Linked DNA regions of Homo sapiens. The protein of the gene in region 1 interacts with the protein of each later gene in a pairwise test. Each region holds a gene or a part of one and is shown in the gene's direction. Other genes may lie near its edges. The genes, in order: ZMYND19, TOX4, ENOX1 and SAXO1.

Region 1 (7,100 bases):
AGTAGCTGGGATTACAGGCATGTGCCACCACACCTGGCTAATTTTTGTATTTTTAGTAGAGACAGGGTTTTGCCCTGTTGGCCAGGTTGGTGTTGAACTCCTGGCCTCAAGTGATCCACCCACCCCGGCCTCCCAAAGTGAGCCACCACACCCAGCCCCACCTCTCTATTTTCAAACATGCCAGACATGTCGCAGCTTAGGGCCTTTGCACAGGCCGTTCCTTCTGCCAAGAATGTTCTGCCCTGTATAGCCACACGGCTCACTCTGTCTCCTTCCACTGCAAGTTCCAATGCTGTTTTCTCAGAGGACGGCTCTGCCCACCCCTGCAGCAGGGCCTCTGACTGCCTTATGGTGATGGACTTGTTCTCCCCATTGCACTTCTCACTGGCCAACGCGGTGTATGGTTCCTCATTACGTGTATGTTCTGCCCCCCTCACTCGAGTATGAGCAGGGGCTTTCATTGATTTTGTTCATTGGTGTGGAGCAGTTTCAGCAGTGGGAGGGGTGAAAGCCCAGCTGGAGTGGGCTGTCAGGAGACTTGGGCGGTAGGCAGAATGCCCCCCAAAGGTGTCACGCCCTTATGCCTGCGCCTGTAATATTATGTTACATAACAAAAGGGACTTTGCAGATGTAAGTAGGTTACCAATTAGTGACCTTAAAATAGGGAGATTATCCTGTTTATCTGGGTGGACCCAATCTAATCACAGGAACACTTAAAGGCATAAAGCTTTCTCCAGCTGAAGGTGGGAGAAATGGGACAGAAAGGATCAAAGACGTGAAGTAGTAGAAAGGCTGGCTTTGGCCGGGCACAATGGCTCACACCTGTAATCCCAGCATTTTGGGAGGCTGAGGCGGGCGGATCACTTGAAGCCGGGAGTTCAAGACTAGCCTGGCTGGCATGGTGAAACCATGTCTACTAAAAATTTAAAAATTAGCTGGGCATGGTGGAGGGCACCTGTAGTCCCAGCTACTCGGGAAGCTGAGGCAGGAGAATCACTTGAACCCGGGAGGCGGAGGTGGCAGCGACCCGAGATTGTACCACTGCACTCCGGCCTGGATGACGAAGCCAGACTCTGTCTAAAAAGAAAAGAAAGTCTTGCTGGTTTTGAAGATGTGAGCGACCTCTAGAAGCTGAGAACAACCCCGGGCCGGCAGCCAGCAAGCGGAGACCTCATACAACCATGTGATGAATGTCAACAACCTGAAGGAGCCTGTAGCCCGGGTCTCCCCTAGGGCCCCTGCTAAGAGCTGAGGCAGCTGACACCCTGATTTCAGCCCTGAGACCTGCAGCAGAGAAGCCAGTCAAACCCACCTGCACTTCTAATGCACAGAACCGTGAGATAATGGGTGCTCTTTTGTGGTTGGTTGTTATAAAGTGATAGAAAACGAATTAACTAGGAGATAAGAGGAGACGCCAAGTACAGACAACCTGTTAAAAACTCTTGCTGGGATGGGAAGTAGGAAAATGAGGCAGTGGCTGGAAAGGGATGGGGGAGTCAAGGGCTTCTTTTTAAGGTGCCTGCCCCTGGGAGAGGGAAGCTGCAGTGAGAGGAAGCACCGCCCCAGCGTTACATAATTCCACCCTCGCAGGACACAGAGGCAGGGGTGCCACATTCATACTTGGGTAGAATGTGTAGATAAAGCAGCCGGCTTGTGGTGGACCAGGTATGAGTTCCCAAGCCAGCTGGGCACTGCCCGCAGCACTGCGCTGTGTCAACACCTGCAGGTCTTTCTCGGCTTTGGAGCCAAGAAGTCACCTTGCCAGGAACAGCCTCCAACCAATGACTGCAAGGTGAGAGGTGAATGCTGGGTCCCCTTGCAGCAGGGTGAAGGGTGAATGCCTTGGCTCCCCTGGCCCTCGGGGAGGGACTCTGAGGATGGTTCCTACACAAGCGCCTGCTACAGTAACTGGACTGGTAGCACCCCCTTCCCTGCCTCACACCCCTACTCTCCTGCTGGTGTCTCCTGGGGTCTTCTCTCAAGCTAACAATTTGGACTTTTTTTTTTTTTTGACGGAGTTTCACTCTGTTGCCCAGACTGGAGTGTGGTGGCACAATCTTGGCTCACTGCAACCTCTGCCTCCTGGGTTCACGCGATGTTCCTGCCTCAGCCTCCCAAGTAGCTGGGAATACAAGTGTGTGCCACCACATCCGCTAATTTTTGTATTTTTAGTAGAAACGGGATTTCACCCTGTTGGCCAAGCTGGTCTTGAACTCCTGACCTCAGGTGATCCACTTGCCTCGGCCTCCCAAAGTGCTGGGATTACAGGTATGAGCCACCAGGCCCGGACAAAATTTGGACTCGAATCCATTTCAAGTCAACCTCTGGGGGAACCTGGACTATGACACCAGTGCTTTTCAACTACCCTAGGGAGCACCCACCAAGCTCCACTTCTTTTCACAAAGCAGTTGCTCATAATCTCATCACACCCTTGCAACTCCATGAGGTTGAGATTGGTAGGGCAGGTACTTTTTTTTTTTTTTTTGAGACGGAGTCTCGCTCTGTCGCCCAACCTGGAGTGCAGTGGCACGATCTCGGCTCACTGCAAGCTCTGCCTCCCGGGTTCAAGCCATTCTCTTGCCTCAGCCTCCCAAGTAGCTGGGACTACAGGCACCCGCCACCACGCCCGGCTTTTTTTTTTGTATTTTTAGTAGAGGTGGGGTTTCACCGTGTTAGCCAGGATGGTCTCCAGCTCCTGACCTCGTGATCTGCCCGCCTCGGCCTCCCAAAGTGCTAGGATTACAGGCATGAGCCACCGCGCGCGGTCGGACAGGCATGTTTTGAGCAAGGCCCAGCCTGAACCCCAATGTGTGTCTCAGGCAGGCCAGGACTCATCAGCCCCTTCAGTCCTCTAGGGTGTCTGGGGTACTGGCAAGTACCAGGGGACCCAGAGATGGAACGTCTGGGCTCACTCATGTACACCCTTTGCAGGCTGGGGCACGGTGGCTCATGCCTGTAATCCCAGCACTTTGGGAGGCCGAGGTGGGCCGATCACCTCAGGTTGGGAGTTCGAGACCATCCTGGCCAATATGGAAAAACCTCACTTCTACTAAAAATACAAAAATTAGCCGGACATGGTGGCGCGTGCCTGTAGTCCCAGCTACTCGGGAGGCTGAGGCAGGAGAGTCGCTTGAACCCGAGAGGCAGAGGCTGCAGTGAGCCGAGATCGTGCCACTGCACTCTAGCCTGGGTGACAGAGCAAAACTCTGACTCAAAAAAAAAAAAAAAAAAAGCAAGAAAAGAAAACGGAACCCAGCAAGCCAGAAAGGAGCCTGTGCAGCTCCTCAGGTGCAGGAGTCGCCCTTGAGGCAGGGTGAGGCCTCCTCACGGGCGACTGGACACCGGCGGAGCAGGACGCAGGACCTAGCCCCGTTCGCTCCAGGCTGCAGGGGAGCCACGCTGCCCACCACGGCGTACCCAGTCCCTCCCTGAGCGGGTCTCGGCTTTCCCGCGGAGCCTAATGGGCCTCACTGGAGTTCCGTTTCCAGACGCCTTGGACCAGGCTGCTCTGGAGGTCAGCCGCCCCCGAGGCTGAAGAGCCGGCGGCTCGGAGAAGGCTGCGCGGGAGGCCGCGCCCTCCGGGTCGCGTGGGCCGGGCGTCCGCTGTCTCTCCAGAAACACCCGCGTCCCGCGGCAACGGCCTCTTCCTAGCCCGCCTCGCCCGCTCCCCGCCCGCCCAGAGGGCCCCGCACGAGCTCCGTCCACCTCCTCCTTCCGCGCTCGGGGCCAGGACGGCGGCGGGAAACAGCTTACGGAGGCTACCGCAAGGGAGGCGAAAAGCAGCCAGCTCGCAGAGCTCCACGGACCCGGCGCGAGTCCCCAGCCACACTCCGCACTGCCCCTCTAGGCGCGGCGCCGCTGCCCGCACAAAGCTTCCCGCGAAACTGACGTCGGCGCGCGCAGGCACCGCCCCCGGCCTCGCCCCTCCCCCGCGCTCGCCCCGCTCCCCAGAGCGCCGGCGCACTCGCCCTCCTCCTATTGGTTGTTGCGGGGCGGCGCGCGCCGGTCGGCGCCGTGCGCGCCTAGCCATTGGCCGAGCGGCGGCGGGCCGGGGGGTGTGTCCGGGGCTGCGCCCCGCCCCTCCGCTCCGCTCGCTGTGGTGCGCGCGGTGGCGGTGGCGGCGGCGGCGGCGGCGCGTGGCAGGTCCGGCGGGCGCGAGGCGGCGGCGGAGGCCCGAGCCCGGCCCAGCCTCGTCCCGCCCGGAGCCCGCCTGGCTGCTACCCCGACCCCGGCTCCGGTCCCGTCCTGTCCCGGCGCGCCGCGGCCTCGCCCCGGCCCCCGCTCGGCGCCTCCCGAGGGAGCGGCGCTGCCGGCCGAGAGCGCAGGCCCGGCCATGACCGACTTCAAATTGGGTATCGTGCGGCTCGGCCGGGTGGCCGGGAAGGTGAGCGGCGCGGAGCCCGCGACCCGGCCCGTCTCGCCCGTCCAGGCCTCCGCGCGGGGCCGGGGGCGGTTGTGCGGGCGGCGGCCGGGGCGGGGGCGCGGAGCCCGGGATGGGCCCCAGCGGGGCGGGGGACGCTGCGCGGGCCCGGCTGCTGGCCCCGCGCGGGTGCAGCTTCCTCTCGCAGGCCGGCGGGCACGCACCCCTCGGCTCTGGGGTGCACCTGGCCACCCTCGGCCCTGCCCTGCCGGAGGTGGAGGCCACGGCCCTGTCCCGAGCCGGGTGCGGAGATGCGTGGCTCGAGCCCGAGCCGCGTTCTCCCGGAGCCCTCCCAGTGGTGTCGGCGATCCGGGGCCTAGCGCGGCGTCCGGGCTGCCAGTGCGGCCACACGGTTTAAACACAGCGCCCTTTCCGAGGCAGCGCCACTTCCACACCTCTCGCCGAGGCGGGTCTGGTGTGGGCTCTTCTGTGCCTCCCAGTTCTCAGCAGGGCTTCAGGCTCGTTTTAACGCTGCCAGGGGTTGGCCACGTTAGGCTGAGCCTCAGACTCGGAGCAGAGAGGAAGAAGCCTGGGCCCTGATGCTGCAGACTCAGGGCCTTCCTCGACTTCTCTTCTTACTTGGCCCCCACGCTCCACGTTTGAGGCTGGGGATTCCATGGCACCTGTGGGCATTGAGGCTTGGCGGTTTCTCGGAGCCACCTGTGCAGCTGCACCAGCCAGGGTCCTTACCCGGATGGGAGCCCTGTTCCCGTCACCAGCGGCTGCGGCTTTTGGTGGGAGAGAGGAGCCGAGGCAGTGTCAGGCGGCGTCAGGTAAAACAGGTTCAGATCCCAGAAGAAAAACTGCCAAGAGGGAGACTGGCCCGTTCTGGGACCTGTTCCTGTTTCCTGCCCCTGCTGCAAGAGCATAGGCAGGGCCTGCTGGGGAGGAGGCTTTTTTCCACCAGGGAAGGGTGGGCTCTCCAGTCAGGTCGGAGACCAGAGACCCCTTCTAACTCCACCCATGATGGCATTGTCATCCCTTACAGCTTTTCTTTGGAACATTTCAGATGGACAAAAAGCTAAAAAGGGTAATCAGTGAGTAGCTCAGCTTAATAAACACACCCTAATCAAAACCTTCTGGCTCTTCTGCCTCAGCCCCGGCCCCTCCCTCAGCTCAGTGAAACAGTCTTTGCCTAGGTTTATTGGTGCGTTGAATGTTCAGTGCCACTGTTGGGGTTAGCCCTGCGAGGATGAAGCCTGATACCAGCTCCTCTGGCGCAGACTAAAGTGGGCAGCTGGCTTTTAACCTGTCTGCCTGTGTTTTGTCGTAGACTGCACCACCCCAAACGGTGGAATGAGGCCCCCATGTGCTGAGCTGTCTTGGTCTGAAGAGGCCTGTAGTTACTTTCCACTTCACAGGAAAATGCAACAGGCTCCTGCCTGTTCTGGTTATAAGGTTACTGCACCTCACGCAGATCCCAAATGTAATGATTTGAAACATGTGGTTAACTTCCAGACCAAATACACGCTGATCGATGAGCAGGACATCCCGCTGGTGGAGAGCTACTCCTTTGAGGTAAGTAAGGATGGCTGTTCCCTCCCCTGATGCTCGTGGTCAGTGCCCAGGAGGGTCACGAGGAACGAGCTCTCTCCCCTGTGCTGCAAGAGCAGGCGGCCCCACAAGTGGACAACTGGTGCTGGCCTGTGAGCCCTGAGCCGTCAGCCCCACTTCGAGCCGTGGCCCTGCAGAACCTGGCTGTTGCTGCCACTGGAGCCCACTGTGGCCCACATGGCCTGGCGACAGTGGTCTTCCTCACTTTCACCCCAGCTGCCAGCTCCTCTTGAAAGCAAATGGAATGTTCTCATGTTTGTGATTGTGTCACGTGGACCATGTCTGTTAGCTCGAAGACCCTGCTCTTTAGAGCTAGCCACCTCTGCTGGGCCTGCCTTAGCAGTCCCTCCTGGCTGCCCAGCTGCCTCCCGTTCTCTGCTCTCATGGGGTCTTCCTGCCTCTTCCCAGCTTCCATTCCTGCCGCTGAGCTTGGCCTCCCTCACCATCCTTTATCTCTGTGCCCCACACATTCACAGTAGTGACCTCTCCAGGGGGTTCTCTATCTCACTGCACCGTGGGCTTTTTTTAAGGGTAGGAAAATGTATTTGTCTATGTCCCATTGTATTTTGCAGAGTTGTTTGTGAGTGTTTCTTGCTCGAATAGACAGAGTGGTGGTGGGCCACGCTGGCCCCTGGGAGCCATGTGCCTGTGGGAAGCTCTGCACTCCCCAGGGTCTCAGGGACAGGGCTGGCATTTGTCCCTCTGGCTTGCTTGTTTCACTTGGTTTTTCTAAGAGGGAATTGAAGTGTTGCTGAGAATTGGAGGTTTTTTAACAGCTCTTTCCCTTGTTCCTTCTCAGGCCCGAATGGAAGTGGATGCAGATGGAAATGGTGCTAAGATATTTGCCTATGCCTTTGACAAGAACCGAGGAAGGGGCTCTGGGAGACTCCTTCATGAGCTGCTGTGGTGGGTGTTTCCAAGCTGTCTCTGCCCCCCGCCACTGGGCTCCTGGGTGAGCTCCGATGGCACAGGGCGCCTGGAGCCCCCTGCCCCGCTGAAGCCCTGCCTTGCCTTCCCTGAATCTCGCAGTTATTTTTGTGTCCTTCACCACTAACCCAAAGGAACGAATGATTTGTATGTTGCACTTCAAACACCAAGTGGACTTTCTGCTGGGAGCTTGCCCAGG
Region 2 (7,023 bases), on another chromosome or scaffold:
GGCATAATTTAAGACAAAAGAGACGGTAATGGTAGAAAAGAGATAAAAGAATTGAAAATTGTGACTGATGTTAGCAGCCTTGAATGTACCAAATGACCAAGGGTATCAGAAGAGAGATTGGTAAAAATAATAGGTTCTAAGAAATTGATTATAAAATAGGATCCTAAGCAGAAAAAATGCATCCTGAGAATCTCTAGTACCCCATTATGTTCTTCACTTAGTAGTATGCCATTTCTCCTCTTTTCACTAATTCTTTTCCCCCTTTTTTCCCCTACAGACATTCCATACACCAAGCTTGGGTGATGAGGAATTTGAAATCCCACCTATCTCCTTGGATTCTGATCCCTCATTGGCTGTCTCAGATGTGGTTGGCCACTTTGATGACCTGGCAGACCCTTCCTCTTCACAGGATGGCAGTTTTTCAGCCCAGTATGGGGTCCAGACATTGGACATGCCTGTGGGCATGACCCATGGCTTGATGGAGCAGGGCGGGGGGCTCCTGAGTGGGGGCTTGACCATGGTAAGGGGCAAGACATTGTCAGGCTTACCCCAGCTAATGGGCATGGCATTAGGGGAGACAAAGTTACTCTATTCCCTGCTACACTTGGGTATTACTTGTTTCTCTTCTTGTGGCTAAAGGCTCACCAACAAAGACTTAATTTCACCTGAATAAATGAAATTTACCATGTAGGTAGATTTTACTTGAAAAATAATTTAAAATTGTACAATGTCTGGTTTGAAAATTATTTATTGTGGTTTTTGGGAAAAAGTGTTTTCTGCTTTTATTATGGCCTTCACATCCTAGGATTCAAATTTGAATGTGATAGCTGGCACACGGAGGGATTTATTCAAAAATGGCCTGAATCACGTTGAGCAGCCAGCAGAACAGAGCTTAAAAAAAAAAAAAAAGTCTGAGCCAAATATAGTATTGTGGATTAGTATGTAATATAAATCAGTATATTGGGCTTCCAGCACATCGAACCAGTAAGCACATCTTCATACTCTATATTTGATGCCAGACTTTAATATTGGCCTTATTTATGCTGATTGCCTATGTATTACAATTTTAAAAGCTATTATTTTGGGAGAGTACAGATAGGAAGTTTTTCTTTACTCAATGTGTTGTCACTACCTATATATTACTGAATAAGTTGATAGCTCTTTGACTTGTCCAACAGTGCGACTTCTCTGATTATTTTTAGTTCTTCTTTTGAGTGCAAAGAAGTAAATTCATTAATTTCTGTACTTTTTTAAAAAGCTTATTTTTTTATTTTCATTTTTGAAGACTATTTTATGTTTTGTATTTTAAATGATACAATTTGGGTAGGCAGGGAATTTATAAGCTGTCTTAAATTTAGGGGGGAAAAGTGGTTTTTTTTATATTTAGTGTTTAATTAGTCCTTCTGCTTCTCTCAGGACTTGGACCACTCTATAGGAACTCAGTATAGTGCCAACCCACCTGTTACAATTGATGTACCAATGACAGACATGACATCTGGCTTGATGGGGCATAGCCAGTTGACCACCATTGATCAGTCAGAACTGAGTTCCCAGCTGGGTTTGAGCCTAGGGGGTGGCACCATCCTGCCACCTGCCCAGTCACCTGAAGATCGTCTTTCAACCACCCCTTCACCTACTAGTTCACTTCACGAGGATGGTGTTGAGGATTTCCGGAGGGTGAGGCATTCCCTGTCAAAATCAATTCTGCTGTGATAGTCTGGGATAAAATTTTTGGGATACAGAGCCTAATCAGTATTCTTTACCCTTGCCGTGCCATCTCCTCTGCTGTTTTCTGGGTATGGGGTTCCACCTCCCAATTTCCAGTTTATAATTCTCCTCTCAATCCCTATTCTTATTGGTTCTCCATATTTGACTAATGTCTTTTAATGCTATTTCTATGATTTTTAGCATTTCTGAAAATTCCATACATGTGGCTAGTTTCCAGACATAATACTTGTCATTGTCCATTGTGTAATTCTCTCTTTTTTCTCTCCTACAGCAACTTCCCAGCCAGAAGACAGTCGTGGTGGAAGCAGGGAAAAAGCAGAAGGCCCCAAAGAAGAGAAAAAAGAAAGATCCTAATGAACCTCAGAAACCAGTTTCAGCATATGCTTTATTCTTTCGTGATACACAGGCTGCCATCAAGGGACAGAATCCTAATGCCACTTTTGGTGAGGTTTCAAAAATTGTGGCCTCCATGTGGGATAGTCTTGGAGAGGAGCAAAAACAGGTGAGCAAATATTGAGGAACTAGTAGTGAATGTTCCAGAAGTTTTTAAAGAGATAAAAATTGAGGTTTTCTTTTTTCTTACATGTCCTTATCTAATATCAGCTGTTTGTTAATGACACTTAAATATCATCCCTTGTCTTCGAAGTTGCAGCCATACACTCACTCCAGAAAACCTATTTAAATTTTTTTTTTTTGAGACAGAGTCTCGCTCTGTCACCCAGGCTGGAGTGCAGTGCCGTGATCTCAGCTCACTGCAAGCTCCGCCTCCTGGGTTCACGCCATTCTCCTGCTTCAGCCTCCCGAGTAGCTGGGACTGCAGGCGCTTCCACCACACTGGGCTAATTTTGTTTTTGTATTTTTAGTAGAGACGGCGTTTCACCATGTCAGCCAGGATGGTCTCGATCTCCTGACCTCGTGATCCACCCGCCTCGGCCTCCCAAAGTGCTGGGATTACAGGCATGAGCCACTGCGCCCGGCCTATTTAAAAATTATTAATAGGCTGAGTGTGGTGGCTCATGCTTTTAATCCCAGCACTTTGGGAGGCCAGGGCAGGAGGATTGCTTGAGCCCATGAGTTCGAGACCATCCTGGGCAACATAGGGAGACCCCCGTCTCACAGAAAATTAGCTGGGTGTGGTGGCATGTGCCTTTGGTCCCAGCTGTGGAGGCTGAGGCGGGAGGATTGCTTGAGTTCAGGATATAAAGGCTGCAGTGAGCCATGTTTGTGTCACTGCACTCCAGCCTGGGTGACAGAGCAAGACCCCGGCTCAAATAAATAAATAATAATTGTTATAGGCCGGGCGCGGTGGCTCACGCCTGTTAATCCCAGCACTTTGGGAAGCCGAGGCAGGCGGATTACGAAGTCAGGAGATCAACACCATCCTGGCTGACATTGAAACCCCGACTCTACTAAAAATACAAAAAAATTAGCCGGGTGTGGTGGCATGCCTCAAATCCCAGCTACTCAGGCGGCTGAGGCAGGAGAATTGCTTGAACCCGGGAGGCAGAGGTTGCGGTGAGCCGAGATCATGCCATTGCACTCCAGCCTGGGCAACAAGAGTGAAACTCCATCTCAAAAAATAATAATAATTGTTACAGAAGTACTGCATCTTTACAATAACTCTCAAAAATAGCTACCATTTCCCGCTTTTAAGGTGGAAACTGGAGCCCACTGCCCAGTTAAGGTCATATAACATTTAAGTGGTAAAGTTGAGACACAATCCAGGTTCTTTAACTCTTCCCATGTACTTTCCACTAATAATGTCTCCTATAATTCCTCATGTAGTGTCCTTCTGTTCAATTTTTAGATATTTAACTTTTCTAAGTCTCATTTTTTCCCCCATTTATAAAATTAGGCTATTACTTGATAAGCTGCATGCTGTGGCTAACTCTCAAATCCACTACCAAGTTTGGATTTAGAATTACTTGTTTGTTTGTTTTTGAGATGGAATTTCGCTCCTGTTACCCAGGCTGCAGTGCAGTGGTGCAATCTCAGCTTACTGCAACTTCCACCTCCTGGGTTCAAGTGATTCTCCTGCCTCAGCCTCCCAAGTAGCTGGGATTACCGGCATGTGCCGCCACACCCAGCTAATGTTGTATTTTTAGTAGAGACAGGGTTTCACCGTGTTGGTCAGGCTGGTGCCAAACTCCTGACCTCAGGTGATCCGCCTGCCTTGTCCTCCCAACGTGCTGGGATTACAGGTGTGAGCCACCGCACCTGGCCTATTTTTTTTCTTTCTTTTTCTTTTTTGGATTTAGAGTTTAAAAACTTTTTAGAGCTAGCCCAGATTCAAAGGAGGGGGAAATAGGCTTCAGCTCTTGAAGGGAGAAAGGTCATATGGGAGGAGTTGTTGTGGCCATCTTTGCAAACAATTTACCACATTCCATAAGGGAAAATATACTGGTTAGACACAGTCCCAGGCTAAGACACAGTTTTTGGATTAGGGTTTATTTTGTATTTATTTATTTATTTTTTTGAGACAGAGTCTCACTGTGTCGCCCAGGCTGGAGTGCAGTAGCACAATCTTGGTTGACTGCAAGCTCTATCTCCCAGGTTCACGCCATTCTCCTGCCTCAGCCTCCTGAGTAGCTGGACTATAGGCGCCCATCACCACGCCGGGCTAGTTTTGTTTTTGTTTTTTTTAGTAGAGATCGGGTTTCACCAGGTTAGCCAGGATGGTCTCAATCTCCTGACCTCGTGATCTGGCCACCTTGGCCTCCCAAAGTGCTGGGATTACAGGCGTGAGCCACCGCACCTGGCAGATTAGGGTTTATTTTTGTTACAGAAGTGAGCATGGGTTGATGTTTGCCTTAAATGTAGCTATTCTCGGCCAGGCGTGGTGGCTCACGCCTGTAATCCCAGCACTTTGGGAGGCAGAGGCAGGCGGATCACAAGGTCAGGAGATCGAGACCATCCTGGCTAACACAGCGAAACCCCATCTCTACTAAAAATACAAAAAATTAGCCGGGCGTGGTGGCGGGTGCCTATAGTCCCAGCTACTCAGGAGGCTGAAGCAGGAGAATGGCATGAACCTGGGAGGCAGAGCTTGCAATGAGCCAAGATCACGCCACTGCACTCGAGCCTGGGCGAGAGAGCACGACTCTGTCTCAAAAAAAATTTAAAAAAAATAAAATAAATGTAGCAAAATAAAATAAATGTAGCTATTCTTGCCAGACTCCTGTCGATTGGTTGTCTTTCAGAGGTATGCTCAGTGGAGTGAGTCTGCCATGGAGGTTGTCTTGACTGTTAGCTTTCAGAATTGAATTCACTGATAGAGGTTGTCAGTGATTAGACTAAGATGAATTGTCATTCATTGATAAATAATACAGAACTATCAGTCTTTCCTAAGAGTATGGGGAGTTTTGTTTTTTTTTTTAAAGTCTCTTTTTTGCAGGTATATAAGAGGAAAACTGAGGCTGCCAAGAAAGAGTATCTGAAGGCACTGGCTGCTTACAAAGACAACCAGGAGTGTCAGGTAAGAGGGATAGGATAGAATGAATATTTAAACCAGTAAGAAGTTTTTTGGAAGTGTTTGTTAGCAGTTTTAAGAAGTAAATACCACCAAGTGATTGATTAATTGATAGATTGATTTATGTCTTCTTTTAGGCCACTGTGGAAACAGTGGAATTGGATCCAGCACCACCATCACAAACTCCTTCTCCACCTCCTATGGCTACTGTTGACCCAGCATCTCCAGCACCAGCTTCAATAGAGCCCCCTGCCCTGTCCCCATCCATTGTTGTTAACTCCACCCTTTCATCCTATGTGGCAAACCAGGCATCTTCTGGAGCTGGGGGTCAGCCCAATATCACCAAGTTGATTATTACCAAACAAATGTTGCCCTCTTCTATTACTATGTCTCAAGGAGGGATGGTTACTGTTATCCCAGCCACAGTGGTGACCTCCCGGGGGCTCCAACTAGGCCAAACCAGTACAGCTACTATCCAGCCCAGTCAACAAGCCCAGATTGTCACTCGGTCAGTGTTGCAGGCAGCAGCAGCTGCTGCTGCTGCTGCTTCTATGCAACTGCCTCCACCCCGACTACAGCCCCCTCCATTACAACAGATGCCACAGCCCCCGACTCAGCAGCAAGTTACCATTCTGCAGCAGCCTCCTCCACTCCAGGCCATGCAACAGCCTCCACCTCAGAAAGTTCGAATCAATTTACAGCAACAGCCTCCTCCTCTGCAGATCAAGAGTGTGCCTCTACCCACTTTGAAAATGCAGACTACCTTAGTCCCACCAACTGTGGAAAGTAGTCCTGAGCGGCCTATGAACAACAGCCCTGAGGCCCATACAGTGGAGGCACCTTCTCCTGAGACTATCTGTGAGATGATCACAGATGTAGTTCCTGAGGTGAGCCTTTGTTTTTAAGTCTTTAGTCTAGTGGAAATGTATAAAAATGTTTTTGGTTGACCCAATAACAGTGGGGGTTGCTACTAGCATTTAATGCCCAGCAACCAGGAGCACAAAACATCCTGCAGATGGGAGTTCCTTGCAGCAGTTGACTTCTCTTACCCAAGGTACTCATACTGTTTTTTTTTTGTTTGTTTGTTTTTGAGATGGAGTTTCACTCATTGCCCAGGCTGGAGTGCAATGGTGCGATCTCGGCTCACTGCAACCTCTACCTCCTGGGTTCAAGAGATTCTCCTGCCTCAGCCTCCCGAGTGGCTGGGATTACAGGCATGTGCCACCATGTCCGGCTAATTTTGTATTTTTAGTAGAGACGGTTTCTCCATGTTGGTCAGGCTGGTCTCGAACTCCTGATCTCAGGTGATCTGCCTGCCTCGGCCTCCCAAAGTGCTGGGATTACAGGTGTGAGCCACTGCACCCGCCCTGTTTTGTTTTGTTTTGTTTTGTTTTTCTTGAGACGGAGTCTCGCTCTGTTGCCTGGGCTGGAGTGCAGTGGTGTAATCTTGGCTCACTGCAATCTCCACCTCCTAGTTCAAGTGATTCTCCTGCCTCAGCCTCCCGAGTAGCTGGGATTACAGGCGCCCACCACTACACCCAGCTAATTTTTTGTATTTTTATTAGAGACAGAGTTTCACCATGTTCATTGGGCTGGTCTTGAACTCCTGACCTCGTGATTCGCCCGCTTCGGCCTCCCAGAGTGCAGGGATTACAGGCGTGAGCCACCGTGTGCCCCATAGTGTTTTTAGTGAGATACATTAAGACAGTCTTCTGCCCCAGACCACTCCTTAACTAAGCAGAGGTCACTAGTTCAACTGGACAGGATATAGCCTAAACAGTTATTATTCAGAGTTGTTACCCAAGGATCCTAAACTTTGGACATGC
Region 3 (7,423 bases), on another chromosome or scaffold:
GTAAATCTACCAATTCTTTTCCCTTTAGCCATAAAATGTCATGGTGCAATTAATCTATATTAGGCAGTAGCTCTTAATGTGAGCTTCAGAGGAAGTTCCTTTAACTCCCTGAAATTTTATTTAAACATTTTTTATACATTAATAGGTTCATTTTCCTGAAGAAAGGATCCATAGCTTTCTTCAGTTTCTTGGAAATACACAGCTCCATAAACTGTTAGAACCACTGACACCAAGTATATCTACCTGCACCCCAAATGTCAGCAATGATGACTAAGAAAGAAAACCGGTCTTGTTTTGCTTAGTATAAACTATAACATTTTTTTCTCTGATTTTTTTTACCTTCCTAAAGATGTCTGATCTCCAGTCAGAATTAAGTTTTCCTAAATAGTATGTGGAATAAGGCAATGTTTAAAGACATGGATACAAATAGGATGACTTGAGGCTGCTTCTTGTTCCTGTACTATACTCTGGACTGTGTTGGTACTTTCTTTCCAGGTGCAGGTCAAGGTGTTTTTTTTTTTTTATCATTTAAAACTCTAATGGACTAAGTGATCTGGGACCTAATTATAAGGGAAATGACCTGTATCCTTATGTGTGCTCACAGCCACTAAAATCAACAGCATTTCAGCTAACGGTCCCTGCCTTCTCACTTCAGAGGATTTGGGGCAATGGGCTCCTAGAATGAGGAGTTGACTTTGGAATTCACGGTACATCTCACAGTCTAAATGCATCAGTCTTTAAAGGTAGAAAGCCTTTTTTTTTTTTTTTTTTTTTTTTTTTTTTTTTTTTTTTTTTTTTTTTAGTTTAGACTGACAAAACAGTTGTGATCAAATAAGTTTAGAGTGTTTCTCCACAGGCCCCACACCTTCACCATCCTGTGTTTTTAAGTTAATGATTGACTAGTTTACTGCACTGCTGCAAACTGAAAAAAGCAGTTATGTTAAGGAACATTCCCTTTAGGAAGAAAAATAGAACTTTTACAAATATGCTATTGATTTTAAATCCGGCTGATAATAACAAATAAAAATGAACCTCTCAGCTGTACATTTTATTATTACCTAGTACTTAAGTAGCAGAAGGAGCTATGGGGATGATAGCATATAACCCTATTTGCTCCTCCAAACTTTTATGTTTAAGTTGGTCAGAAACCTATATATCTATGTTGTTATTCTTTCCTTCTATTACCTTTTAACATACATTAACTTATTTAAGTTAACATACATTATTTTTAAGTTAACATACATTAAGCTTGTGATATGCCTACATTCTTAGGTGCTGGCTTCTTATATTTGTTTTTACGAAGACAAGACTGTCCCCTTTGGTGGTCATCAGAGAAGTTACAGCTTTATTAACATTCCTCCCACCCACCAAGTAAGACAAGCACTTGGGAAGCTGTTGAAACTAGGGATTTCAACCTTCTGAAGGTTCACTGAAAATCACCTCGCAAAAAGCAGATTAATAGGAGAAAAGACATACAAAACTTATTTTCATGTGCATAATCCAAGGGAATTGCAGGAGAATGATTGCCCAATAACCCAGTGGGGTACACAGATGCTCATATACCCTTCTTCATAGGGGAAGAATAGAAAGGGAAATGTGGATGATTTTAAGGGGGATAGTAAAGAATTTTTAGTGGAATTCAATGAGCTTGGTGAACATAAAATGGCCTGGGATAAAGTCTGTTGGGCCCGCAGAGGAGTGTGACAAAAGTATGTCCAGTTGTGTTGACAGGCTTCAATCTTTCTTCCTACGACGTGAGTTAGATTAATAAAAACTCAGGGAAGGCAAGTGCGTTCTTCTTTGGCAGATCTGGTTTCTAGGCAGATGAAAGACCTTCAGAGAACAATTTCATCCTGTGCTTTGGGTGAGACAGACGACTGAGAGACAGGAGGCAGAGAGAGGGTCAGAGAGACTTTGAGGCTGCTTCTTCAGTCCAGCATGTCAAAGTGCCATATTTTCCGGTATTAGTTTCTGAGCCCAACAAAACCCTAAAAGCAACTTTCTAAGGAAAATGAAGCTTTAAAATTGTTTTGGAAAATTCTGACTCATACCCATTCTATAGGTTGGCTGTCAAGGGTCCATTTTCGGTATCAGAGTTTTTCTGCTTCTTTTGCAAGTTTTAGAGCTTCCTTTCAAGTGAGAAATTTAAGTAAGCTTTCAACCTAATAAAAAAGCTCCAATATCACAACAAATGTCTTCTAAGAAGATTGTCAATTGAGTGAAGGTAGATAAATCAGTTAAAGGGACCCCCACTAAAGAACACACGGTACCCAAATAAATCCATTTTAATTTTCACTTTATTTCAGTTATATTTCACAGCTGTGGTATCATGAGTGGAGAGAGAAGCAGCTCATAGGCGGGCCTGAGTTCAAAGGAATTGAAATTTAGCATGAAATGCAAAATTGAAGACTTCTGCTTCTAAGACGATGATTGTAGAAATACCGAGGTCGAAGGATGTGGACTTGGTGCTACACCAGACAGCAGAATTAGCAGTCTGGGGTGACCCTGCATGTATTGGTCAGTGTCCATGAACACTACTCTTTACAGGAGAAAAATGCGTACCTGATAAGCTATTAGAAATGTGTATTTCTGGCCTGGAGCGGTGGCTCATGCCTGTAATCCCAGCACTTTGGGAGGCCGAGGCAGGCGGATCACTTGAGGTCAGGAGTTGGAGACCAGTCTGGAAAACATGGTGAAACTGTGTCTCTACTAAAAACTAAAAACTAAAAAAAAAAAAAAAAAAAAAAAAAAAAAAAAATTAGCCGAGCGTGGTGGCCGGCGCCTGTAATCCTAGCTACTAGGAGGCTGAGGCAGGAGAATTCGCTTGAACCCGGGAGGCAGAGGTTGCAGTGAGCCGAGATCGCGCCACTGCACTCCAGCCTGGGTGACAGAGCGAGGTTCCGTCTCAAAAAACAAAAAACAAAAGTGTATTTCTCTTAAAACTGTTTTCCCCATCCTTCTGCTCTAGAAGGGACAGTATAAACTGCTGGTGAACACTGACTTTCACATTTTGAGAGGTTAGGTTCTGAGCTTTGGCCCCCTCACACCCAGGGCATCCCACTGGGGTCCCTGCAGAGTGCTTCTACATGCATCCTTTGTTAAGGGTGCACAATGGATAAGTATTATTTTCTTTCTTTGCATTGGGGTTCTGACCGCCAGGGGGAAAAATAGCCACACACAAGGAAATGGCATAAGTTAAAATCAGGCAAGCCTAGTGGGGTGGTAATGACTTTCCCAGCATCCAAGTCTTTGCCTTCAGGTTACGTGAAGCTAGAAAACAATGTCATTCATTCAACATTTACAGGGAACTCACAAAGTACAGAGTACTATGCTAAGCACTGGAAGGCATGCAAAAGTGTGCAAAACACAATCCCTGCATTGAGGATTCCTGCCAGAAAGGGTATTTCAAGTATTACCCAGACCTTACGACCCTTGAAGAAATGCTTGTGTGAATAAAATCCCACTCAGAATTTAAAATAAGCAAGGAAAAGTATACTACTAAGACAATATATCTGTTAAGAGGCAGAGAATGTAAATGTGCTTTAAACATTTATTTCTGAAGTATTACAATGTAGTTGGGATGGAGGATCGGGGGATGTGGGTGTGTGTGGGGAGGTGGTGGGAGCGGTTCTTGGACGAGCCTGACTCTAAGGAGGCACTGCTTAGATGCCTGCACAGCTAAGTTGAATCCTAACAAAGAGGAGGCCGGCATTCTTACCTGGGAAGTGGGTAACTTTGAGAAAAAGTAGCCTCCAAGGAGGAAAAAAAGGCAACATGTCACCTGGGGTTAGGATCCCCTCACCCTTACCAACCTGAATGCTGACCGCACCCCGGCCGAGCCACTCTGGGCCGCACACCCCGCATCATCTGCCCAGGCCACGCGGCCCAATTCCACCGTCTACCCCAAGCCCACAATCCTGTAACACGCCCGCTCCAGCCTGGAGTCGGCCACGTGCGCCCGGGTTCTTCTCTTGGCCCTTCAGCGGGCCCGGCCCCTCCAAGGTCGCCGTAGCAACCGTGCGGTCCCTCTCTCGGTTCCCCCGCTCCCAGTAGAGCAGTCCCGACCGCGGCGGCGGTGGCGGGAGCGAGCGGCCTCGGCCCCTCCCGAGAGGGGGCAGCGCGACCGTGGGCTGCGGGCGCCGCCTCTGCTGCATCGGTGGCTGCGCGCTCCGCTCGGCTCTGCCGGGCTGGGATCCGGAGCCCTAGCGCGCCTCGCTGACTTCCCCTCCTCCTCTGCTGCCGCCCCGTGGGCAGCTTCTCCAAGCGAGACACGCGTTCGATCCTCCTTCCCCGCGTTTACGGATTTCCGGGGTCGTAGAATTTTGCCTCGGTCCCTACGAGCATCTCTCGGCCTCTCTCCCCCTCCCCTCGCGACTCCCCCACCCCGTGGGCGCGCGCGCACCCATACACTCACACTCGCAGGCGCGCGTGCGCACGCCCGCGCGCCTCCAGCCGCGGAGTCTCCAGCGCCCCTCAGCAGATCCCCGCTCTCCCGGGCGCCGCTACTCACACAGGCTTCCAGCCGCCACGGGGCGTCCTCTGTCTGCTGCAGCGGCGGCGGCAGCAGAGGGAACGGCGACTGCAGCCCGGCCGCGTCTCCCAGCTCCGTGCCCGGGACAGAGTCCGGGAGAAGCAAAGGAGGAGGAGGACGCCGAGGCTAGGAGGAGCCGCGCCGCGCCCGGCGCCCCACTCCGCGCAGCGGGTTGCCTCCGCTCCCCATACGGCGGCCCCAGGTAAGCAGCTCCGGGGCCCGCAGCCTCCCTGGGGCGTCCGGGCTCCGAGCCGGGGTCCTCTGGTCTCACCCCCGCCACGGCACCTGGATCTAGACTGAGAGGGGAGTGGGCGAGGGGGGAGGGGAGTGGAGCTAGAGGTGAGGCTGGTGAGGAGGGGTGCGTGGACGCGTGGGGGCTTCGGTGCAGCCCCCACGCCCTTCCCCGCCGTGCCCCGTCTCAAGCTCCCTCACTTTTACGCGCCCGGGGGTGCCCAGCGCCCCAGACAGCTGTTCCCCGCTCTCCCCTCCGCCCGCCAGCCAGTGTCAGCTCCGGGCTCCGCGCCCGCCGCGCGCCAGTCACCTCCCCTGCACCTTGGACAGCGCACCCCGCACCCGTCTCCCCCTGCGGGCGTCGCCCCCGGGACCCGTTCCTGCCCACACAGTGTTCCCGCTGCCCTCTTCTTTCAGGTTTTCACCCTCCCGCTCTGCATCCCTTTTCCTCCAGCCTTGGCGGACTCCGCTCTGCTGCGGGCCGGAAACTTTCCTCCCCGCCTAGTCTGCGCTGGGTACTGTTGTTATTCGTGACTGTCCCCTCTCGCGGGGAGCTCGGACACCTTGGACAGGTCTTCGTCGGCGGGAGCGCGCCCTGCCTGGCCCAACGCGAGGTAAAGGAGGCACTGGGGCAGCCGGACTCGGCCGCTGCCAGGGTGCAGAGCCCGCGCCTCGGCCGCTGGACGCCGGCCGCCTCCCCGCCTCTCCGGACCCGACACGTGCGAGCCTCCCACGGACGCGGCCCCTCCCAGACCACCCCACGTCCTCCCCCTGCACGGCCACAGCCACCCCATAGGTTGGACACCCGGGGCTCGCGGGTCCTGATTGGCTGAAGGCGTAACCCCGCCCTCTTTCGGAAGGGGGGTGGTTCTGGAGTGTTGTGGTTGTCATCCCGCGGCGAGCACATGGGGAAAGTGGGGTCGACAGGTGGGCAAGCCCAGCTCTGTGGAATCTCTGCGTCTCACTGTATAGCCACTGAGCCACGCTTCTTCACCCAGATACACTCCTGCTTCTCTCCTTTTCTCTCCCTCAATCTTTCACTGCTGTAACATTACATGAAAAAAACTGGCTTTGTAATCCCAATTTTGTTAAGATTGCATTTGTTTGGTGGTAGCAATTTTTAAAAGCAGACCCAGGAGAATGCAGGAAATACGTGCGTATGGAAAGGTTCCTGGCCAACTGGGCTGCAGATTTGAGTCTGGTAGTTTGGAGAAAGCAATGAAGCGTGCTTAAGGGATCTGAAGAGGGTGGAGAAAGTGGGAAGGAAATTGATTCCTGGAGGAGAGACGCAGGTGAGCGAGCTTGGAAAGCTGAGCTGGTGGGCCCGCTCGAGAGGTGGGTGCGTGCTGTTGGAGACGGCTCTGTCAAGCAAAGTGGTAATATTGGCTGGTACTTAGTTTATGGTTAACACACTCTGCTTTTGTTTTACTAGCGTTGCCACTTTGATAGAGACTTTATATTAATAATGTCTATTCATGTAATGGATATTGCTCATTCCAGTTTCTTGTAATATACAGATTTGAAAGTGATAATGAGTTTGAAAAAGTGAAAGCCCTCTTGGAGGAGATGCGTTAAACAGTTAAAGTGCTTTCGGAATATTGTGAGGGAAGACGGATGAGCATTGCATAAAATGCATATTGTTCTGGCATTATTTAGAGCCTTTGAAGAAATATATGTGTACGTATAAATGATACTGATTTCTCTTCATTTCAAAGCGTGATTGCCTCTAGCATTTTCCAGCTTTAATTCCTTCAGGCTGTTTTGATGTTGTGTCTGTACATCTAAGAATATTGTAATTCTTATCTTTAGAAGCCTTGTCAATGTGAAACAAACAGCAACTGATGCAAGTTAATGTTGACAACTTTATATTGAGTACACTGTGTGTTATTTTATTTGTAAGCTAGTGAAATATGCAAGAGTAACATAGCATGACTGTTGTTCCCCAGGGACCCATATCAAAACAAAGTGGGGAATCACATGAGGCTATTCCATGGAGAACAATTCAATTATTTTTAAGATGAATAAAATTTAAGATTCTTGGTTGTAAACAGCAACACTCTTTGAATTATCTTTGTACACATTGGTAGCATATGATAGTAAATCAACATATTAAACGTATTACATGATTCTAAAGTAGATGGTAAAGGCTTTCCATTATTATCATTTTTATATAAGTAGACAGGATTGCTTTTCTGACTGGAGGACCTCCTATTCAAGAAACAGGATTTGATATATGTGACAAATTGGAAATTATTGCTATTGTTAAGAAAATAATTCTGTGTTTTTATTTCTCTAGTTCATACCTTGATTTCCCTAAGGGATTTAGTTTCAAGTTGTGGGCCTATTAAATTTAGATGGGTTTGTATGTAGGAGAATGTATATAATCACATATGCATACATGCAAAATATTTGTATGTCTATCAGCACACAGTTGTATATTTATACACGTAATTTTAGGGTACATTCAGTGTATTTATTCGTATATATGTTATTGTCATCCTTAGAATTTTTTCTCATTTCTTTTTGTCCAAAAGGTGGCCCTGTTTTAAACTGTAGAAAGCATTATCACCAGTAGAATTGGCCAATAGATCATGGAAACAGACAATAGTATTTTGTTGCCTGGCAACCACCTACTGTGAATGAAAAACAAAGCAGTGACAG
Region 4 (6,984 bases), about 120 Mb from region 1:
TTACTTCCTAGATAAAATGCGGATATAGGTACTGGGTAAATACAGCCATTCCAAATGGGAGAAATTGGGCAAAACAAAGGGGTTACAGTCCCCATGCAAGTCTGAAATCCAGCAGGGTAGTCAAATCTTAAAGCTCCAAAATGATCTCCTTTGACTCCATGTCTCACATCCAGGTCACGCTGAAGCAAGAGGTGAATTCCCATGGTCTTGGACAGCTCCTCCCCTGTGGCTTTCCAGGGTACCGCCTCCCTTCTGGATGTTTTCATGGGCTGGCAATGAGTGTCTGTGGCTTTACCAGGCACACAGTGCAATTTGTCGGTGGATCTCCCATTTTGGGGTCTGGAGGATGCTGGCCCTCTTCTCACAGCTCCACTAGGTGGTGCCCCAGTAGGGACATTTCCCTTTCACATTGCCCTAGCAGAGGTTCTCCATGAGAGTTCCAACCCTGCAGCAAACTTCTGCTTGGACATCCAGGCATTTCCATATATCCTCTGAAATCTAGGCGGAGATTCCCAAACCTCAATTCTTGACTTCTGTGCACTCACAGGCTTAACACCATGCGGAAGCTGCCAAGGCTTGGGGCTTGCATCCTCTGAAGCCATGGCCCAAGCTCTATGTTGGCCCCTTTCAGCCATGGCTGGAGCAGCTGGGATGCAGGGCACCAAGTCCCTAGGCTGGACACAGCATGGGGACCCTGGTCCCGGCCCATGAAACCATTTTCTCCTAGGCCTGCGGGCCTGTGATGGGAGGGGCTGCTGTGAAGATTTCTGACATGCCCAGGAGACATTTTCCCCATTGTCTTGGGGATTAACATTTGGCTACTTGTCACTTATGCAAATTTCTGCAGCCAGCTTGAATTTCTCCTCAGAAAACAGGTTTTTCTTTTCTTTTTTCTTTCTTTCTTTCTTTTTTTTTTTTTTTATTATACTTTAAGTTCTGGGGTACATGTGCAGAACGTGCAGGTTTGTTACATGGGTATACATGTGCCATGGTCGTTTGCTGCACCCATCAACCCATCATCTACATTAGGTATTTCTCCTAATGCTCTCCCTCCCCCAGCCCCCTACCCCCCGCCAGGCCCCAGTGTGTGATGTTCCCCTCCCTGTGTCCATGTGTTCTCATTGTTCAGCTCCCACTTATGAGTGAGAACATGTGGTGTTTGGTTTTCTGTTCTTGTGTTAGTTTGCTGAGAAGGTTTTTCTTTTCTATTGCATTGTCAGGATGCAAATTTTCCAAACTTTTGTGCTCTGCTTCCCTTATAAAACTGAATGCCTTTAACAGCACCCAAGTCACCTGTTAAATGCTTTGCTGCTTAGAAGTTTCGTCTGCCAGATACCCTAAATCATCTCCCTCAAGTTCAAACTTCCATAGATCTCTAGGACAGGGCAAAATGCCACCAGTCTCTTTGCTAAAACATAACAAGAATCACCTTGGATTCCATTCCCAACAAGTTCCTCATCTCTATCTGAGACCACCTCAGCCTGGACTTTATTGTCCATATCGCTATCAGCATTTTGGGCAAAGCCATTCAACAAGTCTCTAGGAAGTTCCAAATTTTCTCACATTTTCCTGTCTTCTTCGGAGCCCTCCAAACTGTTCCAACCTCTGCCTATTACCCAGTTCCAAAGTTGCTTCCTCATTTTTGGGTAACTTTTCAGCAGCATCCCACTCTGCTGGTACCAATTTACTGTATTAGTCCATTTTCATGCTGCTGATAAAGACATATCTGAGACTGGGAAGATAAAGCAGTTTAATTGGACTTACAGTTCCACATGGCTGGGGAGGTCTCAGAATCATGGTGGGAGGTGAAAGACCCTTCCTACATGGCGGGTGGCAAGAGAGAAAAATGAAGATAAAACCGTCAGATCTCATGAGACTTATTCTCTATCATAAGAGCAGTATGGGGGAAACCGCCCCCATGATTCAAATTATCTCCCACTGGGTCCCTCCCACAACATGTGGGAATTATGGGAGTACAATTCAAGATTAGATTTGGGTGGGGACACAGAACCAAACCATATCAGATGGGTCAGGGTAAGTTTGGCTGGATGTAACAAAAGATGGACAGTAAGTGTAACTAGGTGAGGGGAGGTTGTCCCTACTGTCTAGCACTGATCTTTAGGTATATCATTGTTGAGGCTATTTTGTCCACACCATCTTCATCTTTCAAGATCTCTACCCTCTATTGAGGGCATGGATGGAGGAAGTGGGGAGTACCATGATTGTTGACAAGGTGGCCACCCACAAGGGCAGTTTGAATGGCAGGGGGCATGAACAGGCATTCTTCTGCTGAAAGATTTATGGATAATGTTTAGGCAGCCATCAAGAGAAGGCTGGTGTCCAGCACTGTATTTCCTCTGTAAGGACTGTGTGATGTTCTCTGTCAATGGCAATGGATGGCATGCAGGTTTTGCTTTGACTTCCAATAGCTCCCACCTCTTTTTTGTCTGGCCATGTTTCCATCCTCCCCTGTAGAGTTCTGACTTCCTACTGGGAAGGCAAGGAGCAGCTTCCCACCCCACTGTTCTTAAGAATGATCAATAAGCTTTGCTCCTGTCTGAATCTACCTTGCTGACTTCCTATAACTGGGGTTGGAACTCTCTCTCTGTAAAATGTCAGATAGTGAATATTTTAGCTTTTGTGGGCCAAGAGGCAAAATCGGGAATGTTTACACAAATTTTTTGAAAAAATTCAAAACTTTATTCACAGACACTGAAATTTGAATTTTAGGTAAGTTTCATTTGTCATGTAATATTATTATTTTAATTTTTTCAACCATTAAAAAATATGAAAACCATTCTTAGCTCAATGGCCAGATAGAGTCAAGTGGCCAACTGCAGACAATAGTTTGCTGACCTCTATTCTAGAGCCTATTACTGAAGGAAAAAACCTAACCCCCCCCACACAAAAAGAAACCCTCTGAATATTAAGTGTCTTGCAGTCCAAGATGCCTCTGACTGACTCATTCACTAAAATGAATGGAAAGAGTTAGGAAGCATAGGAAAGAAAAGCATAAAGATTGTCAATACTTTAAGCTCCCATTTCCCATAAGCAGGAAGTCAAAATGTTTTAAGTCCAAACAACTGGCCAGAGCAGTGTCTTTTGAACTTGCTTCATGACCAGAATCACCTGGCTTCTTGTTGAAGCTAGATTCCCGGACTAGAGGTTTTGATGCAAGGGAGACTTCTGGGTGGGGGTGTGCTCTCGGGATCAGGTAAGCTGAAGAAACACTATTCCAGGGGGTGTAAAGGAACCTCAAAAGCTGTAGTTCTTAAAGTGTGGTCCGTGGCCCAGCAGAACCAGCATTACCTGAGAGCTTGTAAGAAATGCAAGTCTTTGGCCTACCCTAGAAACACTGAATCAGAAACTGGGGGTGGGGTCTGGCAATCTGGTTTTCATCAAGCCAGGTGGTCCTGATGCCAACTAGAATTTGAGAACGCCTGCTTCAAGGCATCATTACCAGCATCTGGAGAAGTGATTGAGAACCCACCTGAGCAGTGAAGGCCTGGGCGCTCTTAAACCACTGTGTTCTCAAGAGCGCAGGTCTGTGGGTGAGAGCAATTCTAACAGACATCTGAAGCCAAAGGCCTAGGTTTCCACAGGAAGATCTGGAAACCCTGTTCAAGGCAAGCCTTTTGGAAGTCAAGGCTGTATTCCCCTAAGAGGGGGCACCATGGATCCTAGAGATAGCAAATGCCACCCAAGGTGATGGTGAGGGAGTTTTCAGCTTTTCTGCACGTGTGACCGTTTACTGCACCAGGAGCTTTCTAGTGACTTCCACCTTTTTCAGGTTTTTCCAAGGTTCACCGGGGAACCCCTGTCCTGGGCCTGCCAGTGAGGTGCTGGGAGCTTCCCGACCTCACAAGCGGCTCTTGTGATGTAATTGCCACCTGAGGCGTGCCCCTCCTGGCCCTGGCGACATCACAGAGGCTACCTGGGCACGGACCCCGCAGCTTCCTGGGGCCCAGTCAGCCGCTCCAGGTGCTTAAGTCTGGACTGCGGAGGCCGGGGCGGTGGCGTGCAGGGTGAGGTCTCCCGGGCTGGCGCGCGTGCAAGCCCCCTGCTGCTACCTCGCGCTAGGCCAGCTCCAGGAGGGCAACAGACGACAGGACATTGCAAAAGGGCCACTTAAATTTTCCTTCGAGTAAACAGAACACCTGCCAAGACCCTCGAGCCTGGGCGTGCCCCAAGACAGGTGGTTGGGGTCTAGGAGTCGGCTGCAGCTGGCGATGCTCTGAGGGGACGTCAGGGCCTCAGGATCGCCCCTATGAAGACGAAGTGCATCTGTGAACTGTGCTCCTGCGGGTAAGGTGGCCACGCCCAGGGCAAGGCTGGGGGAGCCTGGGTTTTCAGACTCCCGAGGAAGGGAAGCCTCCCCCAGCTGCTTCATCAGGCGGCATCACGGTGGGTTCGTCCACTTGCTACGTTTTTTAAGCCACAATTGTGTCAACTAGCGTTGTGCCCGCGGACGCCACATCAGTTCTGGCGAATGTGGCTGTTTTCGGGCCTTCTGTGCCGCTTCACTTGAGAACTGCAGGAGGGTTGAAAATGGGCGTGACCGCGCAGTCTGCACTCCCTTCCCTGAAGCCCAGAAAGTGTCAGCCAAGGAGGGAGAACACCTGGCCCAGTGGGACCAGTCTTGCTCCTTTTGGGAAAGTGATAGGATGGGAGGAGAATTCCTGTAGTATAACTGAATTTCTCATTCAGAGAGATTGTTACTTTGTCAGAGAAGTATAAGGTATTAGTAAAACTTGTTCCACATTGTGTAGAGTTGAATAAGGATAATGAAAACATTACTTTCACAGTCGCCTGGCCTGCCAGGTCTCCCTTCTAACCTTTAAGGACCATCTTTGGGTGGAAGCGCAGTAAAGGTGGTCCTGGGGGAAATCATGGACTTTAGTCAGAGTCCCACGGGCTGACTGGTCTGCTGTCACTCACATGATCTCTTAGAGGCTCCTTCTATCTGCTTCCCAGGGCAGCTGGGTTTCTGCTTGGCTGGGGCAGGGAGTGGGCAGCAGAGGAGCAACAGGCAAGAGGGTTCTGAGGTCACCTTTCCTGGGCTGTCATTAATTGTGGGATCTTAGATTGGTAACTAAACTCCAGGTCATAGTCGCCTCATCTGTACCAACAATACGTACCTCATAGGACTATTGTAAGAGTTAAGATCATGTATGTGAGTCCTGGTACATGGATTGTGCTTAATATGTTAGTGTCCTGAAATCTGAAAAAAGGGCAAATATGACACATGCATATAAAAATGGTATCAGTAGTGTGGAGAATTAAAGGGCACTCTAAAAACTGGATCAGCAACCTTCTATATCTCTGGCATCAATAAATGGTTCCCAACTCTGGCTGCTGATTAGAATCACACAGGGAGTTTGAAAACTATCAGTTGCTCAGGCCGTTGAATTGATACTCTCAGAGTGGGCCCTGTCAACTGTCTAAAGGTGATTCTGGCCATTTGCTAGGACTGGGACTCACTGAACTAGATCATGTACAAACGTGGGTCTTGCTTTTGAGCTTTGTTAAGTGGGGCCAGAGCAGTGTATAGTCTAGGACTACATGTTACCAAGCAAAACCTTTTTTTCTAAGGCCGCCTTTCTTTTTTCTTTTTGGAGGCAGTGTCTTGCTCTGTTGCGCAGGCTGGAGTGCAGTGGTGCCATCTCGCTTCACTGCAACCTATGCCTCAGGGTTCAAGTGATTCTCCTGCCTCAGCCTCCTGAGTAGATGGGATTACAGGCACATGCCACCATGCCTGGCTAATTTTTGTATTTTTAGTAGAGACAGGGTTTCAACCATGTTGTCCAGGCTGGTTTTGAACTCCTGATCTCAGGTGATCGCCTGCCTCGGCCTCCCAAAGTGCTGGGATTACAGGCATGAGCCACTAAGGCCTTCTTTCTACTGGGATGCTTTACATTACCCTCCTGTGTCCTCCTGCATTGTTCTAGGCATTGGGATTGAATGTATAAGACATAGTCTCCATCTTTGCACAGCGTGCAGTCTAGGTAGGAAGGCAGAATGCTCATTAAGAGGTGCAGAGCATATATAGTGAGAAGTCTCCCTCCTGCCCCTGCAGTAGGGTTATGACTCATTTGGGTGTTCCTTCTCTGACTCTGTTCTCATTCTGTCCCTGCAAAGGAGTCACTTTCCATTGGAAGCAGAGTCTGTTCTTGTGTCTCTTCTCCTTTTCTTCTCTCCTCATCCTGTATTTTCTCCTCCATTTTATGGTTTCAGCCAATAGTTTCTCCTGTCTTCTGAATTCCAGTTTCATTTTCATCTTCTCAAAGTGCTTTGGTGATCCATCTGTCTCATTAATCTCAACTTCAACAACCTTCAAACATTATTCTGGTATCTGCCCCATTCATGGTGCCAGCAATCTTCCATTCACCCTGGGTGAAAATTTTGAATCATCTCTTACTCTCCCTCAAACAGAACATTGAATCTTTTTCTTCTTCTTATTTTTTTATTTTTTTTATTTTTTTGAGATGGAGTCTTACTCTGTCGTGCAGTGGCGCGATCTCTGCTCACTGCAACCTCCGCCTGCTGGGTTCAAACGATTCTCCTGCCCCAGCCTCCCAAGTAGCTGGGATTACAGGTACCCACCACCATGCTGGGCTAATTTTTGCATTTTTAGTAGAGATGGGGTTTCACCATGTTGGCCAGCTGGTCTTAAACTCCTGACCTCAAATGATCCACCTACCTTGGCCTCCAAAAGTGTTGGGATTACAGGCGTGAGCCACCGAGCCTGGCACATTGACTCTTTTCTAAAGTCTGGGTCCCTCCTCCATTGTAATCTTTCTTTAATTGGTCCCTTCCCTTTTATTCCGGTTACAACCTCCCTGGTTCTCTCATTTTTGTGTTTGGAAACTGGTCCTAAATTACCTTCCTAGTTTTTTTTTCTCCCATGATTCCCTTACATGAAACTACACCTTGAATTGGATCAGGTTTCTTGGCATCCCCTGAGTGGACCTGCTGATGTCCCTT

Evidence for each region.
Region 2: the proteins of ZMYND19 (region 1) and TOX4 interact in binary tests that used the Homo sapiens proteins (3 or more experiments, as listed by UniProt).
Region 3: the proteins of ZMYND19 (region 1) and ENOX1 interact in binary tests that used the Homo sapiens proteins (3 or more experiments, as listed by UniProt).
Region 4: the proteins of ZMYND19 (region 1) and SAXO1 interact in binary tests that used the Homo sapiens proteins (3 or more experiments, as listed by UniProt).

What each region holds. Positions count from the first base shown.
Region 1 is NC_000009.12:137,587,497-137,594,596, reverse strand, and holds the start of ZMYND19 (zinc finger MYND domain-containing protein 19), read left to right. Parts: upstream 1-4,084; 5' UTR 4,085-4,333; coding exon 4,334-4,384; intron 4,385-4,409; exon of another isoform or gene 4,410-4,959; coding exon of another isoform or gene 4,960-5,193; intron 5,194-5,878; coding exon 5,879-5,938; intron 5,939-6,773; coding exon 6,774-6,880; intron 6,881-7,100. UniProt on the Homo sapiens protein: May be involved as a regulatory molecule in GPR24/MCH-R1 signaling.
Region 2 is NC_000014.9:21,487,174-21,494,196, forward strand, and holds part of TOX4 (TOX high mobility group box family member 4), read left to right. Parts: intron 1-277; coding exon 278-520; intron 521-1,416; coding exon 1,417-1,677; intron 1,678-1,999; coding exon 2,000-2,230; intron 2,231-5,122; coding exon 5,123-5,203; intron 5,204-5,334; coding exon 5,335-6,084; intron 6,085-7,023. UniProt on the Homo sapiens protein: Transcription factor that modulates cell fate reprogramming from the somatic state to the pluripotent and neuronal fate. In liver, controls the expression of hormone-regulated gluconeogenic genes such as G6PC1 and PCK1.
Region 3 is NC_000013.11:43,783,962-43,791,384, reverse strand, and holds the start of ENOX1 (ecto-NOX disulfide-thiol exchanger 1), read left to right. Parts: upstream 1-4,412; 5' UTR 4,413-4,733; intron 4,734-5,179; exon of another isoform or gene 5,180-5,757; intron 5,758-7,423. UniProt on the Homo sapiens protein: Probably acts as a terminal oxidase of plasma electron transport from cytosolic NAD(P)H via hydroquinones to acceptors at the cell surface.
Region 4 is NC_000009.12:19,030,192-19,037,175, reverse strand, and holds the start of SAXO1 (stabilizer of axonemal microtubules 1), read left to right. Parts: upstream 1-3,966; 5' UTR 3,967-4,267; coding exon 4,268-4,305; intron 4,306-6,984. UniProt on the Homo sapiens protein: May play a role in the regulation of cilium length. Stabilizes microtubules at low temperature.